Homo sapiens: one gene and its partners. The protein of the gene in region 3 purifies or fractionates together with the protein of the main gene of each other region. This does not show direct contact. Each region holds a gene or a part of one and is shown on either strand. Other genes may lie near its edges. The genes, in order: EPB41L3, SUPT3H, TAF4, SMCHD1, ANAPC1, ANAPC7 and NAP1L4.

The links.
Region 1: the proteins of TAF4 (region 3) and EPB41L3 purify together in Homo sapiens (affinity purification with mass spectrometry, with the first as the bait; one large-scale study listed by BioGRID). This does not show direct contact.
Region 2: the proteins of TAF4 (region 3) and SUPT3H purify together in Homo sapiens (affinity purification with western blotting; one study listed by BioGRID). This does not show direct contact.
Region 4: the proteins of TAF4 (region 3) and SMCHD1 purify together in Homo sapiens (affinity purification with mass spectrometry, with the first as the bait; one large-scale study listed by BioGRID). This does not show direct contact.
Region 5: the proteins of TAF4 (region 3) and ANAPC1 fractionate together in Homo sapiens (co-fractionation; one large-scale study listed by BioGRID). This does not show direct contact.
Region 6: the proteins of TAF4 (region 3) and ANAPC7 fractionate together in Homo sapiens (co-fractionation; one large-scale study listed by BioGRID). This does not show direct contact.
Region 7: the proteins of TAF4 (region 3) and NAP1L4 fractionate together in Homo sapiens (co-fractionation; one large-scale study listed by BioGRID). This does not show direct contact.

Annotation. Positions count from the first base shown.
Region 1 is NC_000018.10:5,425,498-5,428,997, reverse strand, and holds part of EPB41L3 (band 4.1-like protein 3), read left to right. Parts: intron 1-532; coding exon 533-685; intron 686-3,500. UniProt on the Homo sapiens protein: Tumor suppressor that inhibits cell proliferation and promotes apoptosis. Modulates the activity of protein arginine N-methyltransferases, including PRMT3 and PRMT5.
Region 2 is NC_000006.12:44,951,435-44,954,934, reverse strand, and holds part of SUPT3H (transcription initiation protein SPT3 homolog), read left to right. Parts: intron 1-327; coding exon 328-440; intron 441-1,517; coding exon 1,518-1,625; intron 1,626-3,500.
Region 3 is NC_000020.11:61,974,298-61,976,589, forward strand, and holds the end of TAF4 (transcription initiation factor TFIID subunit 4), read right to left. Parts: intron 2,039-2,292; coding exon 1,871-2,038; 3' UTR 501-1,870; downstream 1-500. UniProt on the Homo sapiens protein: The TFIID basal transcription factor complex plays a major role in the initiation of RNA polymerase II (Pol II)-dependent transcription.
Region 4 is NC_000018.10:2,662,226-2,665,725, forward strand, and holds part of SMCHD1 (structural maintenance of chromosomes flexible hinge domain-containing protein 1), read left to right. Parts: intron 1-3,500. UniProt on the Homo sapiens protein: Non-canonical member of the structural maintenance of chromosomes (SMC) protein family that plays a key role in epigenetic silencing by regulating chromatin architecture.
Region 5 is NC_000002.12:111,874,194-111,877,693, reverse strand, and holds part of ANAPC1 (anaphase-promoting complex subunit 1), read left to right. Parts: intron 1-3,500. UniProt on the Homo sapiens protein: Component of the anaphase promoting complex/cyclosome (APC/C), a cell cycle-regulated E3 ubiquitin ligase that controls progression through mitosis and the G1 phase of the cell cycle.
Region 6 is NC_000012.12:110,386,709-110,390,208, forward strand, and holds part of ANAPC7 (anaphase-promoting complex subunit 7), read right to left. Parts: intron 1,916-3,500; coding exon 1,804-1,915; intron 1,185-1,803; coding exon 1,031-1,184; intron 1-1,030. UniProt on the Homo sapiens protein: Component of the anaphase promoting complex/cyclosome (APC/C), a cell cycle-regulated E3 ubiquitin ligase that controls progression through mitosis and the G1 phase of the cell cycle.
Region 7 is NC_000011.10:2,968,330-2,971,829, reverse strand, and holds part of NAP1L4 (nucleosome assembly protein 1-like 4), read left to right. Parts: intron 1-295; coding exon 296-382; intron 383-1,895; coding exon 1,896-2,027; intron 2,028-3,500. UniProt on the Homo sapiens protein: Acts as a histone chaperone in nucleosome assembly.

The DNA of each region.
Region 1 (3,500 bases), on a different chromosome or scaffold from region 3:
AACAACAACCAAAACCCTCATAGGAAAAGACAGGGTCCATCTTGTTAGCATACGTGTTGGTTAAGAGTGCTGCCTCTGGAACCAGGCTGTGTTCAGCTGGAACTCTGTACCTATTTTCTCATCTGTAAAATGGGAATAATAATAGTGACCATCTCAATTACAGTGAATATTAAAAGAGTTAATATATGTAAAGCAGAGCAGTGCCTGGCAATTGACAAGTGAGAACTGTGGCTACTATTATTACCGTTATTAACATACCTTCATGAGCTGGGCCCTCTTGGTGTGCAGTATTTACTTTGTAAGTCTGAGACACCTGGGAGAGCAGATTTTATTCTAACAAACCTCTCCATAGTGATAAACATCTTCACCAAAAGGCTAATGTTTAATGGTAATGTTTTAAAAATGGCTGCATCATTTTGCATAAGTAAACCAGCCATTTATAGTTTCTGTCGTGGATGCTTAAATACTTTACCCAGCAGAAAATGGAAATAAGTTAGATACTGATCTGTTGTTTCTTGCTTTTATTTTCCAGGACTCAGAAGGGGTAGAAATTATGTTAGGAGTTTGTGCAAGTGGTCTGTTGATATATCGCGACCGGCTGCGAATAAACAGATTTGCCTGGCCCAAGGTTCTAAAGATTTCATACAAACGGAACAACTTTTACATTAAGATCCGGCCGGGAGAGGTAAGTATACCCACATTTGCCTGTGCGTTGGGAGGAAAGATCCCTGATAGCAAGCAAGCATTTAAATTATCTGCTTATGAGTTCTGAGCATTGTGGGACACAGTGAATGACATCTAAGTGCCTGAGAGAGTTTATTGTAGGTTTGCCCAATAAACAGTAATAAATATTCTCTTCTTTATTATATTGTTCCAATATTTCCTACTGCATACGTTAATTGGAGGGTTTTTAAAAACATATTTTAATATAAAATCCAGTCTCGGCCGGGTGCGGTGGCTCACGCCTATAATCCCAGCACTTTGGGAGGCCGGGGGCGGGGTGGGGGCGTGGATCACAAGGTCAGGAGATCGAGACCATCCTGGCTAACACGGTGAAATGCCATCTCTACTAAATATACAAAAAATTAGCCGGGCGTAGTGGCAGGTGCCTATATTCCCAGCTACTCGGGAGGCTGAGGCAGGAGAATGGCGTGAACCCAGGGGGCGGAGCTTGCAGTGAGCCGAGATCGTGCCACTGCACTCCAGCCTGAGCAACAGAGCGAGACTCCGTCTCAAAAAAAAAAAAATTCCAGTATCATTAATAATTTTGTGTATATTTCAAGCAGTAATGGATAAATCTCTTCCTCCACATGCTGTTGTTATTTCTCCATGCTCTTTCTGTTTGTCCTGCAAATCTGGTTGTACTTTAAAGTGAACAGTTTAGAGGTCCTGTACTTCAAGGTACAAGGAATATTAGAACAAAGGACAATTAGTGTGAATTATATCAATGTTCTATAGCTCAATATATGTTTGTTTGTTTGTTTGTTTGTTTTAAGTCAGAGAAGCTAATGAGACAATCAGAATTGTTAACTAGTCCTTACTCCTTGGACAACAGCCTCCATGATCAACTTACGTTTATATCTTCCTTAGTGGTTTGTACATAATAGTAACACATATCTACTCTTATTTACTTAAGAGATAGTTAATAAATACCTCAAATTTCTAATTGGTATGGTTAGTATAACAGAGGCAGTCAAAGCTCAAAGATTCTAGCATACTTATATCTCTGAACATTTTCTGATATGATATAGAATTATCTCTTATCTTCAAAATCTACTTCTCTACTGGAGTTTCTTGGTGGAAAATGCAATTTAAAAAATCAGAATATCGGCTGGGCATGGTGTCTCATGCCTGTAATCCCAGAACTTTGGGAGGCCAAGGGTGGGAGAATCACCTGGGCCCAAGGATTTAAGGCTGCAGTGAGTTTGATCACACCACTGTACCCCAGCCTGGGTGACAGAGCAAAGACCCTGTCTCAAAAATAACAAAAAAATTGAAACATAAAGCATGTAATGATGTTTAGTATGAACATAACATCATACCTATCTATGATAACTGAAATAATCTGTAAGCTTTTCATGTAAATAACTAAAATTATAGTGTTTTAAAAATATTTCCTAAAGATTGTATATTAAACTTATAGCCAATAGATAGTCATTTGACTTCATTGAACATTTGTTAAGTGAGCACCTATTTATTGTCAGACATTAGAAATCTAAAGACAAATATGACCTTGTTCCTTGTTAAGGGATTTTCTATTTAGCAGAAAAACGGACTCATATACTTTGATTGTAACAGCATGATGCAAATGAGATGATATTCTGTAGACATGGAGTGAGCATAGTATTGTGAGATGCCAGAGGGGAGAGCTAGAGAAATGAATCAGTGGACAACTAGTAAGTCATGGGAGGTTTTAAATCAGGATGTGACACAACTAGGTGAATATTTTGGAATGATACATTTCTTAATGAAATTCAACGACTTAGAAACATGATGTGATAAGACCTAAACTAGGGCAGAGGCTGTGGGAATAGACGGGAGGGAACAAATGCAAGAGAGAGGTTTCAGAGGCAGAAGCAGCAGGTCGTAGAGACAGGATAGAGGAAGTAATTAAAAGAGGGAAAAGTCCAGGATAATCAAAGGTTTTCAGTTTGCATGATTGAAGCCAATGGAGATGACATTCGGCAGGAGGGAAAAGGGGGAAAATTTCAGAAAAACAACTGAAATCCCTTTGAAACAGATTTTCAGGGAGTAACTCTTGCATAGGAAGGAGTTGAACAGAGTTATCAACTGTATATATTTTATTCAAGGCCTTAGACATGGAATAAATTACTCAAAGAGCAAGGCAAGTTAGAGAAAGAAAAGGCCCAAAACTAGAACTCTGGATAATACCACTATTTGAGAAAGGGCCAAGGAGCTGAAGAAATGACAGCCAGAGAAATAAAAGAAGAAACAGGCTGATGGATGACCAGGAGATGAGTTTCAGAGGAAAGTGGTTAGCTAGCAGTATCATATGTTACAGAAAGGGCACGCAGGATGTGGACTAACAAAAGTGTGTTGAACTTAACAGTCAGGCCCCATGATGACATTTCAGAGTTCAGAAGGGCAACAGGAGCACCTGCCAGGTGTGTTGAGGTCAGGAGTAGGTAGCAGAGGCAGCAGGTCGTGGCTTCTGCTTCCTAAAGTTTAGCAGTGAGGAGTGAGATGGGGTTGTGGTGCTGGCATAAGCAGGCTCAGAGAGAGCTGGTTTTTCACTCCTCTTCTCTCTGCTTTTACAATCCTATTTACAGCCTGAGAAAAGTGAGTGAGAAGAAATTGGAGACACACAGACTCTGAAGAAGTTGAAAGAAATTGATATAAAACACAGAGAAATAGATATTAATAAACTATTAATACCTATTCAGGTAGTCTAGGAGCCTGCATCATCCTTGCCTACAGAGGTTGGCAGAGACTCTTCCCAGCTTCTTGCAGCAGAGTGCAAGCTGACTCTTCCATATAAC
Region 2 (3,500 bases), on a different chromosome or scaffold from region 3:
TGAGCGGTAGCCAATGGTAAATCTGACAGTGTGAGAAGTATTAAACATTAAATGCTTTAATATACTATGTCATATAGCATAGGTGTAAAATAAAAGACCCAAATACGTAAGAGAGTTGTTGAAAACAACCATTGTGTTGCCTTATAACTGAGAGTTAAAACTTGGATTTCTTGGGGCCAGAATATCTAGACATTAATTATGCATTTTATGTGCATTATTTTTTGTGTACAATTCTGAGTATACTTTTTTAATTTTGTGATAGTAATGTGCAGTATTAAAACACTTTAAAAATTAAAATTTCTGCACTTGTTTTTTTTAAATGGCCAGCCAAAAAAGCTTCCAAATTTCGAGACTGGTTGGACTGCAGCAGTATGGAGATAAAACCCAATGTTGTCGCAATGGAAATCTTAGCATATTTAGCGTATGAAACTGTGGCACAGGTAAGAATTCTAATCTGTCATATCGGGCCACACTGGCTGGTTTTTCTTTATCTCTGCCCATGATCAATTCTTCTTCTCCCTGCTGCTCTACCAGTAATAACAGCCATGAATTCTCTCCTGTGGCATTTACATCATTTTCTAAAATTTAGTTCAGTTATGTGTCTCTGCATCCTCAATTCAAGTGGATGCTAGGATAAAAAAGAGTTCTTGTACCTTTATCTTAATGAGAAATGGAATCCCTGCATGCTTTTTCTTGACATTGAACTCAAATCCACATCTGCCTTGTTTAGAGATTATTTTTGAGCTTTGAAAAACACCTTTCTACGTATGTGAGAATTTAGGAGTACTTACCAAATTCTGGGTCTGGAATCTCGCCCTCTAAAAGACTTTCTCAAGATGTGGTCTTTAGACCACAGGCATCAGCATCTCCTTGGTTCTTGTTTAAAATGCAAATTCTGGCCAGGCGCGGTGGCTCTTGCCTGTAATCCCAACACTTTGGGAGGCCGAGGTGGGTGGATCACCTGCAGTCAGGAGTTCAAGACCAGCTTGGCCAATATGGTGAAACCACATCTCTACTAATAATACCAAAAAAAAGTTAGCCGGGCATGGTGGCGGGCACCTGTAGTCCCAGCTACTCAGGAAGGCTGAGGCAGGAGAATCATTTGAACCTAGGAGGCCGAGGTTGCAGTGAGCTGAGGTCGCACCATTGCACTCCAGCCTGGGCAACAAGAGCGAAACTCCATTTCAAAAATTAATAAAATAAAATAAAATAAGCAAATTCCTAGACTATATGCTTAAAACAGACCTACTGAATTAGAATCTCTGGACTTAAAGCCCAGAAATTTGCACTAGTGACTGTGAAATAAATTTTGAGAACTACTCTCCTAAAAAGTCAGAATATATCATGACTAGGTCCATTCACCAGTCAATGAAAGTGTGTGCTCATGTCTACAATATAGATTTTTAGGCAAGCAGGATTATCAGTAACATTCAGAATGTATTGCTTTTAGGTTTGCCACTTCAGTGGCATTCATGATTATTTCTAGCTATGTGACTTTCATTCTTCTGGTCTTCTAGTTAGTGGATCTGGCTCTTCTTGTGAGGCAAGACATGGTAACCAAGGCAGGGGACCCCTTCAGCCATGCCATTTCTGCAACCTTCATTCAGTATCACAACTCTGCTGAGGTAAGTACAAAAAAAATCTGTCTTAAAACATTTGTGAATTTTGACACATATCTGGTATTTACATTAGTGATTCTTTAATAAAGATTATGCAGGAGTGTATAACCTTCAGTCAAAGAATCTTAATACATTAGACATTCAAATAAGTATTTAATTGAGCACCTACTGTGTGCCAGGCCCTGACAGTCCACTTAAGACAATGACTTTTTTCACGTTTTTCTTGCTTCACTTAGCTTTCCTACCCCTTCATTGAAAGGGATAGTTGCAAGGCATTTCTTATTTTTATGGGAGATGAAAAACTGGTTTAGGTAATGTTGGAAAAGTCATTTATTTCTTTGTGCTTCAAAAGATAAGAGGGTTATCATTATTATTCACAAAATAATCCCTGGCATTTATTGATAACTTTCCATTTCAGTTATTGATTCATCTCTAAAAATGATTTAAAGAAGCTTGTCTTCATTCATCTTGAGTTTTTAGATTGCCCCTACTATGTGAAAATTATATTCTTTTCTGATCTGGCTTTGCTATGGGAACCGTAAAGTTTTCTTTCCAATTTTAAGGCTCTGTATAATAACTGTGCACCACTTTTAGTATACAGAATCTCCTCTGTAAACAGCATCTACCTCAAAACCAGAAATGTATTGCAGTGTCTTGAATGTATTTGCCAATATTCGACCCTTTTCACTAACAAAAACAGCAGTTTCACGTAATTCAATCGAATATCCATAGATAAGACAGCAAGAAGGTTAAGTTCGCATCTACATGTAGAGTTGTGAAGTACGTTTTGGATCAAGTTGGTTGAAATATATAACCTGAAAATGGCTAAGCTCTGTTTTATAGCCATACCTTGATTACACATTTCTACTCCTTGTTAAATATCTATAGGCAAGGATAGTGGTTCAAATCATTTCTAAGAAGTAGTTGTAATCTTCTTTAGGTCACACACCCCTTTGAGAATCTGATGAAAACTATAAACCCTTTTTCTATAAACACATTCACAAATTTTGCCTACAGTTTCAGATTGTTCAGAGACATTCTGAAGCCATTCTATGGATCCAAGGGATCTGTGAACCCTATGGACCCTAGGTTTAAATTTCTCTGCTCTAGGATACATAGAAAATATGTTAACATATATGCCCATATAGCATCTTATTACAAACAAAAGGACAATTCAACATTTTCTTATGCCCCTTGGAAAATCAAATTGGCTTGGAAACCAAATAGGGATTAAAATGTTTATGCCCATTAAAAATCCATTTTTTTCTTAGAAAAGGTCATACATCATTATCAGTCAACATACAAAAGTCCCTAAAGCTTACTTAGTTGATTAATCACTATTTGTTTTCTTTATGTTACAAACCCAAATTATGATGTCAAAAAACCCCCTTTAAAATGTCTTTGATGTTTGTTCACTTTATGAATATGTGTATAAGTATGCTTTCCATTAACATCAGACAAATTTGTTATAACATTTCTAATTGAGAAAATTTACTGTGAACACAACGGGCCTAGTTTTCTTTTAACATTCAAGTGATTGCTTGCATGCCTAGGAAAACTCTTTATTTCCCCTCTTTTCTTGGTTCTCCAGGGTGGCCAAGCTGCCCTAGGCAACTGCTCAGCAACCGCAGCCGCTGTTCCCAGCTACCCAGCAGTTGAGAGGAATATCCTATATGTGCTGGATTTCCTGGGCTCTCTGGGAGGTGGGAGCATGAGTGTCAGAGAGCCTCCTGACAAAATATGTTAGTATAAGCCTCAAACTTTTTTCTGGCTGGCAGACACCCCTCCCCTCCTGTGACTGGTAGTCAAGATGAATATTCAGAGACTGGAAGTCTTCCTTCCTGCCCTTTATCACTTGACAAAATCAGCAGCTAACATCAA
Region 3 (2,292 bases):
CAGAGACCGTTCCCAAAGGCTCTCCAAGGTGCTCGAAGGCAGGGAGCGGTACACATTGGCGCTGAGCCTCTGAGGGCCCAGCAGGAGCTGTGACCTGTCAGGACCAACCAATACCACAAACTGCCCTGGAGACGCCCTCTCTCGCCACAGGAGGTCTGCGTCAAGGCTGGGGCCCTCTGGGCACCTCAGCCGGGCTCGCCACGTGCGTTTCTGTGTACATCTCCCCCAGCACTGGGCCTCCCGCCGCCCCTCCTAGCTGTGCCCAGCTCATCTCCACCTGTGACAGCAGAAGGTGTTAAGCGCAGCCGCCAGCCCCCAGACTCCACGCAGAGAGTAGCTCGGCCCCTGTCCTCACAGAGAAAGTTCTTTCTCCCGGCTCTGATGGGGCTCAGCTACAGATTCCAACAGGTGGCTCAGAAACCAGCACCTCAGCAGAGCCGGAGTGCAATCTGGCAGTAGAATCTAAAACTGGAAAACGGAGGAAAAATAGGCAAAACAAATACAGATAAATTTGTTTTTAATAAAGGAGTTAATTTTCTTTCAATCCTATATAAAACAATAGCAATTAAAAACTTCATTTCTGAAAGTAAAATATTTACATATGAACAAGTAACTGTGCAAAATTTACATGAAAAAATGGAAAGACAGGGATTTCCTAAAAGACAAAATAAAAGGTGTAACAGTTCTCAGGTGTTGATAAAAAATACTGATCAGCGTTCAGTTCACACGCGCTCGAATTAAAGTCTAATGTGAGAATTCACACGGAGAAAGCCAGAGTATTTACAGTCATAAAAGTACTATCAATAGACAATTTCATACAATAACCTCTGAAAATAGAAAGAACCAATTAGTATATTTGTAATAAAAAAATAGGTACAAAGAAGGGGCTTTGCTCTGGACGTCTGTAAAGTCGGCCCAAGGCTTGCATACAGTCTCTTAGCAAAATAATTATAGTTTACATAGCCATTTCTATGTCATGTGCCAAAAGTTATGTACAATTACTGACAAAATACACCAACCATTTTTCAACACTTGATTCACACCGAGAAACAGTCTTTTGATGATTCTTCTCAACTTTGATTTTATTTAATCTAGGTTTTCACTTTTAGCTAAAAAACACAGTGCAAGTAAAATATATTTATGCTGAAAAGGTTTTCATCTCTTTTAACTTTACAGCTTTACAAACTATAGCAAATAAAATGCATTTGTACAGATGCTGACCACACATTCAGAAGGAGCCACCTTTGCTGGGCTCGGCCTCTACCAAGCAGAAATGCGATTACACTCTGAGGTGGGGGTGCAACGATGAATTGTGTATTCCTCCAGGATTCTCAGCGGAGTGGAGGGGAAGGGAGGGGAGGGGAGGGCAGGGGGCAGAGAGGAGAGCGGGGTGGGAGGGGAAGGGAAGGAAGATAAATAGTCTAAAAAATCAGTTTGCTTTGCCAACTGACTATTACAAAAATAAAATAAACGAAATGAGGTCATCGGCTGTAGACATACACCTACATAGTAAGTTAGGTAGAACTAAACCAAAATGCACAAATAATGCAGAAACTGCTATGAGTTGACAGAGGGCAGCTAATTATTTGCTAACGATTCCATCAGTCTTTATATATGGCTTGTTTGGCAGGAAGGCCACTCAATCAAGATGAGTTAAGATTTAATTGTCCTTTAAGAGTATCCACAGGCCTTTGTGTTCTCTCTGTTACAGAAACGTGTTTTCTTTCACACTGAAGAGCTGATTTAGAAACAGGAATATAAAACTGTTCCATTGTAAAGAGGTGGCTGTTTTTTAAACAATATCCCATTTGCTCGTTACAAAAAGGCGTAATCTGCAAATATATAAAAAGTCCCCAGGCGTCCTCCTGTGTCACTTAAGGAATGCTTTGTAGAGCAGCAGTGAATGGCTTGTCTCACGTTCATTTTCTAAACAAAATATGAGGTCCCTGAGGTTGACCCGCGTGATTCTTTGTCGCGTGAACTGTCTGGGGGTTCCGACACCCGAGCTGCCTGGGACCACTGAGCCGGGGCCCGACCCCTGGTGATGAAAAAGGAGAAGACAGTGTGTTAGTGGGGCTCAGAGTGGGGCTTGCAATGAGCCTGTGTATCTGAGCCAAGTACCCCGATTCCAGAGGAGGCCAGGCCTGGCACGGGCTCCTTCCGGTAGGCCCACAGCTGGAGCTGGGGTGCTGTCCAGGGCCCTGCCAGGGCAGGGGCAAGGGCAGGAGGCCCCATGCTGCACCTTCAGGACAGGGCACACTCAGATGCTGCCCAATGCCCCACAGTGCTTGG
Region 4 (3,500 bases), on a different chromosome or scaffold from region 3:
AAAAATAATAGACTTATGTGGGATTATATGGAATAATTAGATATGTTTAGGTGAACATAGATCTTAAAAAAATCATTTGCACATAGTTTTTCAGTAACTACAGGATGCATAATTACATGATTTAACAAGTGGGACATTGGCCAGGCCTGGTGGCTCACGCCTCTAATCCCAGCACTTTGGGAGGCCAAGGCAGGGAGATCATCTGAGGTCAGGAGTTTGAGACCAGCTGGCCAACGTGGTGAAACTCTGTCTCTACTAAAAATGCAAAAATTAGCCAGGTGTGGTGGCACACGCCTGTAGTCCCAGCTGCTTGGGAGGCAGAGGCAGGAGAATGGTGTGAACCCGGGCGGCGGAGCTTGCAGTGAGCTGAGATCGTGCCATTGCACTCCAGCCTGCACAACAGAGCAAGACTCCATCTCAACAACAATAACAACAAAAAACCAAAAAAAAAAAAAAAAAAAAAAAGGGACATCATAGAAATAAAAAAGTAGTAATGAATTAAAAAATACACGACTGTCATGGTTATATGAAACCTAATAAAAATCTATAAGGTCATTTTTGTCTCTGTTAAACAAATAGAATCTTCCCAGTCAGTTTATGTTCATGGCTTTATTTCTCTAGGGTGGAATTGCATGGAATATGAGTATCTTTTAAGTTTACTAAAGTATGCCAAATTAATTACTTTCTTTATGTTTGACTTTTTTTCAGTCATATCAGCAGTGTGTAAGGTACCTATTTCTCTGTACAGAGGCCTACACTTGATGGGCTCAGAATTTAACATTTTTGCCTACCTGATGAGAATAAGTTATATTAATTTCACTGATAACTAGTGATGTTGATCTTTTTATGTTGTCTGGTCTTTTTCTTTATGACTTGTGCTATTTGCATCTTTTGAGACAGAGTCTCACTCAAAAGTCACCCAAGCTAGAGTGCAGTAGTGTGTGATCACGGCTCACTGCAGCCTCGGCTTCCCAGGCTCAGGGGATCGTCCAACCTCAGCCTCTTGAGTGGTTGTGACTACACGTGTGCACCACCATGCCCAGCTATTTTTTTTTTTTCCATTTTTTGTAGAGATGGGGTTTTACCACATTGCCCAGGCTGGTCTTGAACTCCTGAGTTCAAGCAATCCGCCCACCTTGGCCTCCCAGAGTGCTGGGATTACAGCTGTGAACCACTGTGCCTGGCCCACTGTTTGTACCTTTTCAGAAATCCCTTTATGCTCACTCAAAATTATTTCCCTATGTGTTCTTTTACAATTTTGGGCTAATGTACAACTGCTTTAATTCTCCTGGAATTTATTTTTGTCTAAGTTAAGGTGTGGATTTTATCTGTTTCCATGTTGAGATAACTAGTTGTCTTAATATCATTCATTGGATAGTTTATTCTTTCCCCACCAATTTGTAATGTCACCTCTCTTGTTTGCTAGGCTCTGCATCCATATATATGTGGACCTGTCTAAGGGCCCTCTATTCTCTTCCACTGGTCTATTCCAGGAATTTTTTTTTTTAAGACGGAGTCTCGCTCTGTCGCCCAGGCTGGAGTGCAGTGGCGCGATCTCACCTTACTGCCAGCTCCACCTCCCGGGTTCACGCCATTCTCCTGCCTCAGCCTCCCGAGTAGTTGGGACTACAGGCGCCTGCCACCACGCCTGGCTAATTTTTTTGTACTTTTAGTAGAGACGGGGTTTCACCGTGTTAGCCAGGATGGTCTCGATCTCCTGCCCTCGTGATCCACCCTCCTCAGCCTCCCAAAGTGCTGGGATTACAGGTTTGAGCCACCGCGCCCGGCCTATTCCAGGATATTTTAAAGTAGAAATTTTCTTATGAAAACCTTCAGACACAAAGAGAGAATCATGTTATGAACCCCAGTGTACTCATCCAGATTCAAGTTAATAGGAATTTACCACACTAGGATCATTTTTGTTTTTGTAATGTATTTAAGGCATATTCTAGGTCTTAGGTCATTTCACCCCATATACTTCAGCCTGAATATGTATTATCAAACCATTAAAATAAAGCATTTTTAATATTGTCTAATGTCCCTGTCCATATTGAGTTCTCTGAATGTTTAAAAGTATCTTTTTATAGTTGGTTTGTTTAAATCAGGATCTGACATAGTCCTCACATTAAATTTGTTTTTTTTTTGTTTCCTAATTATTTTCAATTTAAAGCATTTGAGCAAATTCCTCCTCCACCAGTCTCTTTAGTTTTCCTGCAGTTGACCTCTTGAAGAAATCAACTAGGTCTTTAATATTCCACATTATGGATTTGTTTGTGCTCTTTTTTGGTGTTACTTAATTTGTTTTATCTCCGTATGTATTCTGTAAACTAAAAGTTAGCTTTAAAGGCTTGATTTGATTTAGGTTCAACTTCTTTGGGGTCAGGAGGCAAAGAATGCTTTGTAGGTAGTACTGATACTTCATATGGCATTACACTGGGAGGCACGTGATGTGTGGGTGTTTCACCCACTCATAGCAATGCTAACATTAAAATCTTGGGATTCACGTGATTTCAGCAGGATTCCTCCATAAGGAAGTTTTGATCTGACTTGCCATTCCTCCTGTGTTTATTAGCTGGAATTCTTTAAGGAACAACTTTGCCTCATCAGCCAGAGCTATTTTGGTTATCCTGAAGTACCATTGATACAAGAAAAGCAGTGTAAATAATTTGTTCTTTCCCTTTAATTTGTCAGTGTTCAGAGTGACAAGTTGGTGCCCTAGCTCATCCCAGTGGTGAGCAATAATGGTTTTTATTAATATCATTTTTGAAGATTTGAGTATCACTAGTCTAGATTTTTTAGATGTTTTCAATAAGAATGTTAATCTTTAGACTAGTCCATTACTACCCGAAACAGAAGCCTTTTCTCTTAACTATATATTGCTGTATTGTTTCATTTTAGACAGAGCATGTATGTTTTAATTCTAATGTAAATGAAAATGTTAACCACTTTTCTAATTCTCATTTTTTGATTAATGTGATTTTACAGTTCATGTGTTCATTGGTCATTTGTATTTTCTCCTTTTCATTTTTTTGTGTTTTTACTTTTTCTCTTTGTTGATCCTTGTCACCCTTTTGTTTCTTGTTGCAATTTCCCTCTAATTTTTTTTTTTCTTTGAGACGGAGTCTCATTCTGTTGCTCAGGCTGGAGTGCAGTGGTGTGATCTTGGCTCACTGCAACCTCCGCCTCCCCAGTTCAAGTGATTCTCCTGCCTTGGCCTCCTGAGTAGCTGGGATTACAGGTGTGCGCCACCACACCTGGCTAATTTTTGTATTTTTAGTAGAGACAGGGTTTCACCATGTTGGTCGGGCTGGTCTTGAACTCCTGACCTTGTGATCCGACGGCCTCAGCCTCCCAAAGTGCTGGGATGACAGGCATGAGCTACCATGCCTGGCCAGTTTCCCTCTAATTTATAATTTGCTTTAATTTTTAAAGTTATTCGTTTGAATGGACCTGTATGTCTTACAAAGCATGGCTGTTCTTCCCTCCGTGCTATAAAATGC
Region 5 (3,500 bases), on a different chromosome or scaffold from region 3:
TCCCGCCTCACCCTCCCGAGTAGCTGGGACTGCAGTTGCCCGCCACCACACCCGGCTAATTTTGTTTTTATATTTTTAGTAGAGCTGGGGTTTCACTGTGTTAGCCAGGATGGTCTCGATCTCCTGACCTTGTGATCTACCCACCCACCTCGGCCTCCCAAAGTGCTGGGATTACAGGCGTGAGCCATCATGCCCAGCCAAGCTTGATAATTATTAAAACTGGCTGATGGGGATTCATTATCCTATTCTGTTTACTTTGTATTTATTTGAAATTTTCCATTATAAAAAGTTTATAGTCTACATTCTGGTTTCTTTAAAAAAGTCACGGAGAAAGAAAAAAAGGTGGGGACTGTTCTACATTGAAAGAGACTAAAGAGACATCACCAAATGCAGTATTTTTTGATCCTTGTTAAATGAACTTTGATTGAGTCCTGGTTTTCTAGCTAAAAAGATATTTTTGGGGAAAATTTGGGAAAGTTGAAAATTACTGGCCAGTAGCTGATGTTAGAGAAGTATTATTTTTTTCTCAGGGACGATGATTTTATGGTTTTATAGGAGAACATCTTTATTTTTAGAAAAGGCATGGTGAAGTATTTAGGGGTGAAATGTCATGATGTGTGTGCAATTTATTTTTAAACAGTCAGCATTCCCATTCCGAAAATCCCATATGTACACAAATGCACACACACAAACAAATATGGCAAAATTTTCATGATTGTTGGATATAGGTGAAATATGTTTGCTGCATTATTTCAACTTTTCTTACTGAAAATTTTTATAACAAAAAGTTGGAGGAAGAACTAATGCATTTATTGTAGTTGAATTAGGGTTGACGAGGTTTTGGAGGCTTTGACTAATGTTAAGTTTCATTTTTGTAAATGCTGAAATCTTTGTATCTGGATACTGCTTCCTCCCACTCCTCCCGCCTACCGTTAACTATTTCCTGATGAGTACTGTATTCTATTTATTGGAAAGGATAAACTGAATCATTATTCCAACATTTGAGGGCATATGTGAAAGCATTTGTGTCCTGGAGTGTTGAAGCCAGTGATCTTTTTGATGGTAAATTTTTTCCCATATAATTCATATAGTTAGTATAGATGTGAAAAGTGCATTTGATGATATCCAAGTAGTTCTTTGCTTCTATATCTTCATCTTAATTTCTCCAAGAACAGTTGCCTATTTACTAGATTCTATGGAAGTGCAGTTAGATATATTATCTCCTTTATCTTAAGATCACTTGTAAGTGTAATTGTAAGATTTGGAATTTCAGTCTTTTGATCTGGAAAATATATTGTTACTTAATCTTCTTGCTAATATGGAGAAAGATAATTTTCTATTTTGTTTATGAAATAATATCAGGTATATGTGACTCAGATTTTATCTGTTCATTGTTTTACCTATCCTGCAAGTATTTTTTTTTTGGTTGTTCTTTTTATTTTTTCATTTATTCTTTTTGTTTTTTAATAGAGATGGGGGTCTCACTATGTTGTCCAGGCTGGTCTTGAACCCCTGGGCTCTAGTGATCCTCCTGGCTTGGCCTCCTAAAGTGTTGAGATTACAGGCGTGAGCCACTGTGCCTGGTCTTCTGCAAGTATTTAGTCTCACTCTGTTTCAGCCATTATGCTGGGGCTACAAAGGTGAATGTAGTTTCTGCCATTGAAGGACTCATAGCCTAGAAAGGAGAACAAACAGATCACCTGAAATGCTGTATTCTGAATGCTGTATAATAACTACCTGTCCACAGAGTGATGAGAGCCCAAAGGACTGAGTGCCAAAGGGAGGGTTTTTCAAAGAAGATGCTATTTGTGTTATAAAATGGTGGCAGAAGGGCATTCTAGGCAGAGGAAATCACAGCAAAAAGAATTATGGAAAAAGATGACTTTTTAAACTTCAGAATGGCTGTACACGAAGTGTGGGTGTGGAGAGATGCAAGTGGATGCTGGCAGTATACAGACCAAAGGGCCTTGTATATAAACCAAGGAATTTGGATTTTAAACTGTGTGCTGAAGGGAGCCTGCCAAGGATTTTAAAATGGAAGCGATCAATTTTGTGTTTTGAGAAGAGATTGCTTTGTTAGCAATATATATATAGGATTGACTGGAGAGGAGGGAGACTGTTGTCAGGGGCACTATTTTGTGACTGTTCAGGTAAAAGATTGGTGCCTTGGCAAAGAAGGGGTGATAAAGCAGAGGGAGATGTGGAAGGGGTTAGTGATCTCTTAGATATCAGGGATAAAAGAGATGTTAAAATATTTACTTTTAGAGGCTGAGAGGATGGGATTTCATCAAAGGAAGTTGAGACTGTAATCGGTGCATTGTAGATTTTGGACATTTCAGGTTGGAGCACAGCTCTCATGCATGGTTTTCTTCCTGAATTTTCATTTCTTAACCATTAAAATCTCCCACAACTCAACAATAAAACAAACTACCCAATTAAAAAATTGGGCAGAAGGACTTAAATGGACATTTTTCTAAAGATGCACACATGGTCAGTAAGCACATGAAAAGATGCTCAGCTTCGCTAATCATTAGGCAAATGCAGATTACAACCACAATGAGATACCACTTTACTAGGTTGGCTGTTATTAAAGAAACATAACAAATGTTGGTGAGGATGTCCAGAAATTGGAACTCCTGTGCATTGCTGATGGGAATGTAACATAGCTGCTGTGGAAAAGTTTGGCGATTTCTCAAAAAGTTACACGTGTAGCCAGGCATGGTGGTGCATGCCTGTACTCCCAAGCTGTTCAGGAGACTGAGGCAGGGGGGTCATGTGAACCCAGGAGTTCTAGGCTGCTGCGAGCTAGAATCATGCCTTGCATTGCAGTTTGGGTGACAGAGTGAGACCCCATCTCTTGAAAGAAAAGTTATACTTAGAATTACCATTATGATCCAGCAGTTCCAGTTCTAGGTATATGCACAATTGAATTGAGAACAGGGATTCACAGATACTTGTACACCAGTGTTTTCAGCAGCATTATTTATGATAGCCAAAAGGTAGAAACAACCCATGTCCATTGACAGATGAATGGATAAACAAATGTGGTATATGCTAACAGTGGAATATTGTTTAGCTTTAAAAAGGGATAAAATTCTGATACATGTCATAACATGGATGAACCTTGAAAACATTATGTTAAGTGAAATAAAATAGATATAAAAGGACAAATGTACAGTTTCACTTACATGAGATACCTAGCACAGGCCCTTTCATAGGGAAAGTGGAATAGAGGTTACCAGAGCTCAGGGCATTGGGAAATGGGGAGTATTGTTTAATGGGCACGGAGTTTCTGTTTGAGATGAGGAAAAAGTTCTGGAAATGTGCAGTATTGTACAAGCTCACAAATTGTACTAAGCTCGTCAATTTAATGTTAATGCTACTGAATTGTCTACTTAAAAATTGTTAAAATGTTAATTTTCATATTGTGTGTATTTGACCACAGTTTAAAAAAAAACACAAAATGCTGTTAAATAATAAGTGATTGCCAGGTATGTCAG
Region 6 (3,500 bases), on a different chromosome or scaffold from region 3:
GAACACAACATACGCTACATGGTGTTAAAGGTAATGTCATTCACAAGTGACACCTATTTATTACTCAAGTAAACGACTTTGCATAACACAAGCCCAAGTCTCTTCTTGTCCTTGAACTTTATCTGAATATAAAGAAAATCCCTAGTCCTAAGCAGGCAAGCTAGGTTAGACACTGCAATAAACCAAGCTTCTGGTGAGTGCAAAATGATTTTCTTCCAGGCTGAAGAATGATACACCAAGGCCAGGCATGGTGGCTCACGTCTATAATCCCAGCACTTTGGGAGGCCCACGTGGGAGAATCACTTGAGCCCAGGAATTCAAGACCAGCTTGGGCAACATGGTGAAATCCCATCTCTACAAAAACATACAAAAATTAGCTGGGTGTGGTGGCATGCGCCTGTAGTCCCAGATACTCAGGAGGCTGAGCAGGAGGATGGTTTGAGCCCGGGAGATTGACAGGTCAAGGCTACACTGAGCTGTGACTGCGCCACTGCACTCTAGCCTGGGAGAGAGAGAGAGAGAGAGAGAGACAGAGAGACAGAGAGACAGAGAGAGAGAGAGAGAGAGAGAGAGAGAGACAGAGAGAGAGAGAGAGAGAGAGACAGAGAGACAGAGAGAGAGAGAGAGGCAGAGAGAGAGAGAGACAGAGAGAGAGAGACAGAGAGAGAGAGAGACAGAGAGAGAGAGAGAGAGAGAGAGAGAGAGAGAGAGAGAGAGAGAGAGACCGACCTTGTCTCAAAAAAAAAAAAAAAAATGACACACCAAGGTAGCCTGCTTTGCTTTGCAAGGGTTACTACCTGTGCAGGCACAGAGCTAAACTCAGTCAGATTTCTATTTTTACAGGTCTCCAACAGAGATGATTACATGATTACATTTGGGACCATTCAGTATAAAAGACTAACACATCCCAGAGACTGGCTGCAGCACCAACAGCAAAGCATCTCATTTTTCTTTTTGCTACTTCAGATACATCAGACTTCCAGACAAGCAAAGGGCCTCAAGAACACTGAATTAACTTTGTGGCTCTCACCAGATGGTACTGATTGCTCTTGAGTTGTCACCAGTGTGCACAAAAGCATACGCTTTGATCCACACAGAGAGCCAGTCCAAGTTAGGCACGGTTTGGATCACATTCATTGTCATGGATGCCACCTCTGCCCCTTTTACAGAAAGGGACAACAAGCCTAAACCAACAGAAAGCAGAAGAAAGAAAGTAAGGCACGATATCTCTCTTCCACATGCAAGGAGCAACGGGCTACATCTTCCCTTGGCTAAAAGGCAACTGCTTCCCTATTCTGAGCGATGCATGAGAGAAAAACCATAATTTAGTATTTCTTTTCTTTTTGAGACAGTGTCTTGTTCTGTCCCCCTGGGCTGGAATGCAGTGGCACAATCTCAGCTCACTGCAACCTCTGCCTCCTGGGTTCAAGCGATACTCATGCCCCAGCCTTCCGAGAAGCTGGGACTACAGGCACGCGCCACCATGCCTGGCTAATTTTTGTATTTTTAGTAGAGACGGGGTTGTGCCATGTTGCCCAGGCTGGTCTCGACCTGCTGAGCTCAGGCAATCCACCCACCTCAGCCTCCCAAGGTGCTAGAATTACAGGTGTAAGCCACCATGCCCGGCCAAAAACCATAATTAAGTATTTCTTGATTGAATATGTGACAACAGGAATCCTACTAAATCACTCTCTTCAGGGGAACTTTTAAAAAAAATAAAGTTATTCTAATGTACAGGCAAGATTGAGAACTACTATCTTTGACAGTAAACATGCCATGAAAACAGGCAGGAAATATCTCTACCTAGAATGGCATCAAGGGCTAATGGGCACTGCCTCAGCACCTCCTTATAGCTGGTGACTGAAGGGCGCTCCTGACCAGCCTTCTTGTACAGGTTTGCCAGCATCATGTTTATCTGTACAAACACAAATAACAGATAGCAAAATAAGCGTATATTGCAAAGAAAATCTCTCACCATGAAAAAGTCCTAATTTTCATTACCAGTTATTTACTTTTTACTGGAAAATCTACCCACAACCCTGTGCAAATAAAGGCAGACTGACCCCATTCTTCAAAAGAAAGAAGAAATTGGCCAGGTGCAGTGGCTCACGCCTGTAATCCCAGCACTTTGGGAGGCCGAGGTGGGTGGATCACGAGGTCAGGAGATTGAGACCATCCCGGCTAACACAGTGAAACCCCGTCTCTACTAAAAAATACAAAAAAATTAGCTGGGCGTGGTGGCGGGAGCCTGTAGTCCCAGCTACTCGGGAGGCTGAGGCAGGAGAATGGTGTGAAACCGGGAGGCGGAGCTTGCAGTGAACCGACATCACGCCACTGCACTCCAGCCTGGGCTACAGAGTGAGACTCCATCTTAAAAAAAAAAAAAAAAAAAAAGAAAAGAAAAGAAATTACTACCCTTCCTTTCCCTAGCTCCTGCCTTCCCTAAGAGGAAAGTCACATTACCTTCCCACAAGGCCCAGTAATATCTGAACAAAAGACGCTGCCCTCTGGAAACTGGAATAACATTCATTTAAGAAATGGTAGAGAACGCTAGTTAACTTGATTCTTTCTTGATCTTAAAACAGAAGATGAACTATCTCACATAAGAAAGTGAGAAACTCTTGACATAGCTAGTTAAGAAGGATCAGCTCAGTTTTTCCTAATAAGGAAATGATACAGAAAGACAGATAAAGAAGTATAATACTTGGCTTTTCTTTGACAATTCGACTTGTGGCTAGACTCTAGCCTTTCTAACACTTAAGGCTTTGGCCCGTAGGTACTAACTCACTAAAGTAATGCTACAAAAATCAGCTACACTATTTAAATCCAGTGAGTGCAGACAGCTGCATTTTAGCGTAATTTAAATATGTAACTTTGTAAAGCTAAATTAAAATAATCCTACCTAACATGCAACTGGGAAATGAGAAAATCTAAAAGTTCTGGCCGGGCGCAGTGGCTCATGCCTGTAATCCCAGCACTTTGGGAGGCCGAGGTGGGTGGATTACGAGGTCAGGAGATTGAGACCATCCCGGCTAACACAGTGAAACCCCGTCTCTACTAAAAAATACAAAAAATTAGCTGGGCGTGGTGGCGGGCGCCTGTAGTCCCAGCTACTCAGGAGGCTGAGGAAGGAGAATGACGTGAACCCGGAAGGCAGAGCTTGCAGTGAGCCGAGATCGTGCCACTGCACTCCAGACTGGGAGACAGAGCGAGACTCCGTCTCAAAAAACAACAAAAAAAACCCACAAAAACAAAAAAAAAGCCAGAAAATCTAAAAGTTCCTAAGAATGTAGAAGTTATAGGCAAGTGATAAAAGACCTTCCTAATAGTACACAGATAAACACAATATTCCAATTTAAAATTAGATTTTTTTTTTTGAGACGGAGTTTCACGCTTGTCACCCAGGCTAGAGTGCGATGGCACGATCTCAGCTCACTGCAACCTCTGCCTCCTGGGTTCAAGTGATTCTCCTGCCTCAGCCTCCTGAGTAGCTGGGATTA
Region 7 (3,500 bases), on a different chromosome or scaffold from region 3:
GCTGTATTGGTGCCCAAAGTGTGATGGCTTCTGCACCATCAGGAAGTTGAAAATCTTTAGCTGAACCATTGGAAATCGGGGACTGTCTTTATTTTACATCTTTAGGTGAAACATCCAGGTTTACCCAGGGAATCATTTAATATTTTTCTTTGAACCCTAAAATTTAGAATCTTAAAATAAGTTATAAAAATATCCAGTTTTCAAAGTCTTTTAGTAGACATTATTTATAAATTTAACTCTTGAGTTCCTAAGTAAGCTAATAACATAATTCTAATAAGGTCTCATTTTTATGTAGAGAAGAGAATTTATCACCGGCGATGTTGAACCAACAGATGCGGAATCGGAATGGCACAGTGAAAATGAAGAGGAAGAGAAATTGGCTGTAAGTCTTTAGAAACATGTGACTCATGTTCTGTTTTAATACTGTTAAAAATAAGCATTTTTTAATGATTTTTAATGACTAGTAAACTTATGTGCTTCTAACAGTAGGTGCTGCTGCATCATTAGGTTGGGTTTAGATTCCTTTCTGATATGGATCTAGCATCTGACACAGTACTGTCAGTTAATAGGAGTAAGATGTAGTGCCACCTCAGTTATCTGTGGACAGGAGCATATTGAAATAAGGGATCAGACCAACAAAGATTAAAACATCAGAGAAAGCAAAGATGAAGAAGAGATGCCCCTGTGTTCTCAGTCACTGGAAGATTGGGGGAGTTGTGAGGGGAGTGCCTTCCTGCTCAGTGGCATGGACTAGCTTGCCCCCTGAGAGGTGCTCCGCCAGTGGATTGGTTGCAGATGGTGGTTGTGGTGTGGCCATCAGTCACCTGCTCACAGCCTTTTTCTAGTGACTGGTCCCATTCCAGTGCTGTGAAAACTCCCAGTGTACCATGGATTAACTTTGTCAGCCTGATTTTATGTTTGGGAGACAAGTAACTTTTATCCTATAACTAACTTTTTGCAGTTTTTTTTTTGGGGGGGGGGTGGTATATGATGATTTTGGTAGCCATATGTGTTTTTGATGCTTTAAAAATATATAGAACCTGGCCTAATTGAAGCCATGGCTGTGGATTAATACAGTTGTGAATCAGTTTCTAACAGCTCAAGGGAAATCTGCCTTTGCTGATTTAAAAGGCCTTTCATTTCAAGATCATTTCATCATAACAATCCCGTTTGGCAAGGCATTCAGAATTTCCCATAGTTGCATCTGGTGTTGCGTTTCACCTCCCTTGGTCTACCTTTTCCCTGGGGCCTGACTCCCCTTCCTTTTGCCATGTGGCCTTTCTGGTCACTTTCTGATGCTTGCGTGGTGTCTGAGCTGGCATTTATAGCCACTTCCTTACAAGCTGGATAAGTTGCTGAGCACTTTCTTGCTGCAGATACTGCTGCGGCAATTTTTTTTTTTTTTATTTCAACTTAGCACCCCACAAATTTTAACAAGAGGTCAGATTATTAGTCCAAGTGAACTTCTTTATCCTTGCACTGGACTTTTTTTGCCCAGTGCTAGATGTTCTGCATATTTGCATTGCATCTCCTTAAGGTTGATGTACAGTCTTTGCATCTGCATTTGTGATGATGATTGTCTCAGGATGGCACCTCACAGAGCTAGCACTGGATGGCCTTTCCCAGCGTCGGTGGCACTTTGTCATCTCTTTAGTTTCTTCGCCTTTGATGTGAAATGGTACGGAATTCCGTGTGGATGTAATGACTTGAATGCTTTTTCCTCAGAAGCATCTGAAAAGTGTCGCGTGGCCCAGTGAGTGGTTTGGAGGTGCAGACTTAGAAAGCAAGGTGTTTGATGGGAGATAGTAGAGGATTCGGCAACGATATTCTACGTGAAGCCGCTGCATTGTTTGTAAACTTTTATTTTCGTTACCTATGTTGCATCTTTTTTTTAGGGAGACATGAAAAGTAAAGTAGTCGTCACAGAAAAAGCAGCGGCAACGGCTGAAGAGCCAGATCCCAAAGGAATTCCAGAGTTCTGGTTTACCATCTTCAGAAATGTGGACATGCTGAGTGAATTAGTCCAGGTAAGCACACTTCTGTCTTGTAGAGAGATTATGTGCTAGTCTTCTAACATTACTTATCTATGGCATTTTTTAAGCACTACACTGGGCATTGAAAGATTGTTCATAGTGGGCGGAAGGGCACTTTCTCTGACCAGGACCTCAGATGAGCAGTCCTGATCTCACAGTGAATGGTTTATTCACAGTGGGGCTTCCATGCTGTCTTTTGCAGTTCTTGGTGGAAAGCTGGGCGCTTCAGCCTGATCCAAAACTTTCAAATCAGTTCCTTTTACCTCTTGTAAAGCTCTGTTGTCTTGCCTGTGGGAAAGCCTATGAATAGATTCCAGAGCCCATCTCTGTCTTCCTGTGGTGTGAGTGTGCAGGAAAGGGTGAGGGCAGGAGACCAGAGCAGAATGAATTTTGAAGGGATGAGCTGTGTGTTTGTTTGTGTGTGTGTGTGTACACACACATCTCAGTGAATTTTTGAACAAGTTGCTAATATTTTCTGATCATTTCTCTTGAAAAAGTGTCTATTTTTTTTAAAAAAAGAGGCCAGGCATGGTGGCTCATGTCTGTAGTCCCAGCACTTTGGGAGGTCAAGGTAGGCAGATCGTTTGAGACCAGCCTGGGCAGCATCGCGAAATCCCATCTCTACAAAAAATAGAAAAGTTAGCTGGGCGTTGTGGTGTGCGCCTGTGGTCCCAGGTACTTGGGAGGCTGAGGCAGGAGGATCACCTGAGCCGAGGAGGTTGAGGCTGTGGTGAGCTGTGATCACGGTGCTGCACTCCATCCTGGTGGGTGACGAGACCCTGTCTCCAAAAAAAAAAAAAAAAAAAAACAACACAACAACAAAACCCAACCACCATTTCTGATTTTGTCTTGCCTTGACATTTCACTTTCTGTAGTGAAATGGTGAACAAATTAAAAGGTAACAAATTTGGTTTTCCCTGAAATGAGTTATAATAGAAGTTTCTAGAACAGAGAAACAAATCTTGCCTTAAGTCTCACTGACTGACTTGCCGTCAGTTTTTATTGCTCCAGCGTCCCCAGAAACAGCACGTCTGCATTCAGACTTGCTCAGGACAGCTGCAGGCTCTGCTTGTGTGGGCAGAGTGCTTCTCCCATCACAGAGCATAGGCACTGTGCGTTGCAAACTGCTACATTGTAATTTGCACAGGATTTTACAGCTACGGTTTTTAATGGTTTTCACAAATGTATCACATTGCTGCCTCTGCTACCTCCCTTGTTTAATGCTTGTCCTGTGTCCTAAGCCAAAACTTGAGAAAAGATGGAAAGAATGATGTATTTCTTATTCTCCTTCCAGACCAGAAAGCATCTAAAATAGAACAGCCTTGGTTTTTCCTGATCTGAGCTTCCTTTTCATATGAAAAGGTGGAATTTAAGAAGACTAGACCATACTTTTAAAAGAATGCCATGCACCAGAATTTCATTGGAAAAATTAAGTAATGTCTACCAGAGCCGTAGTCTCACCCTGTG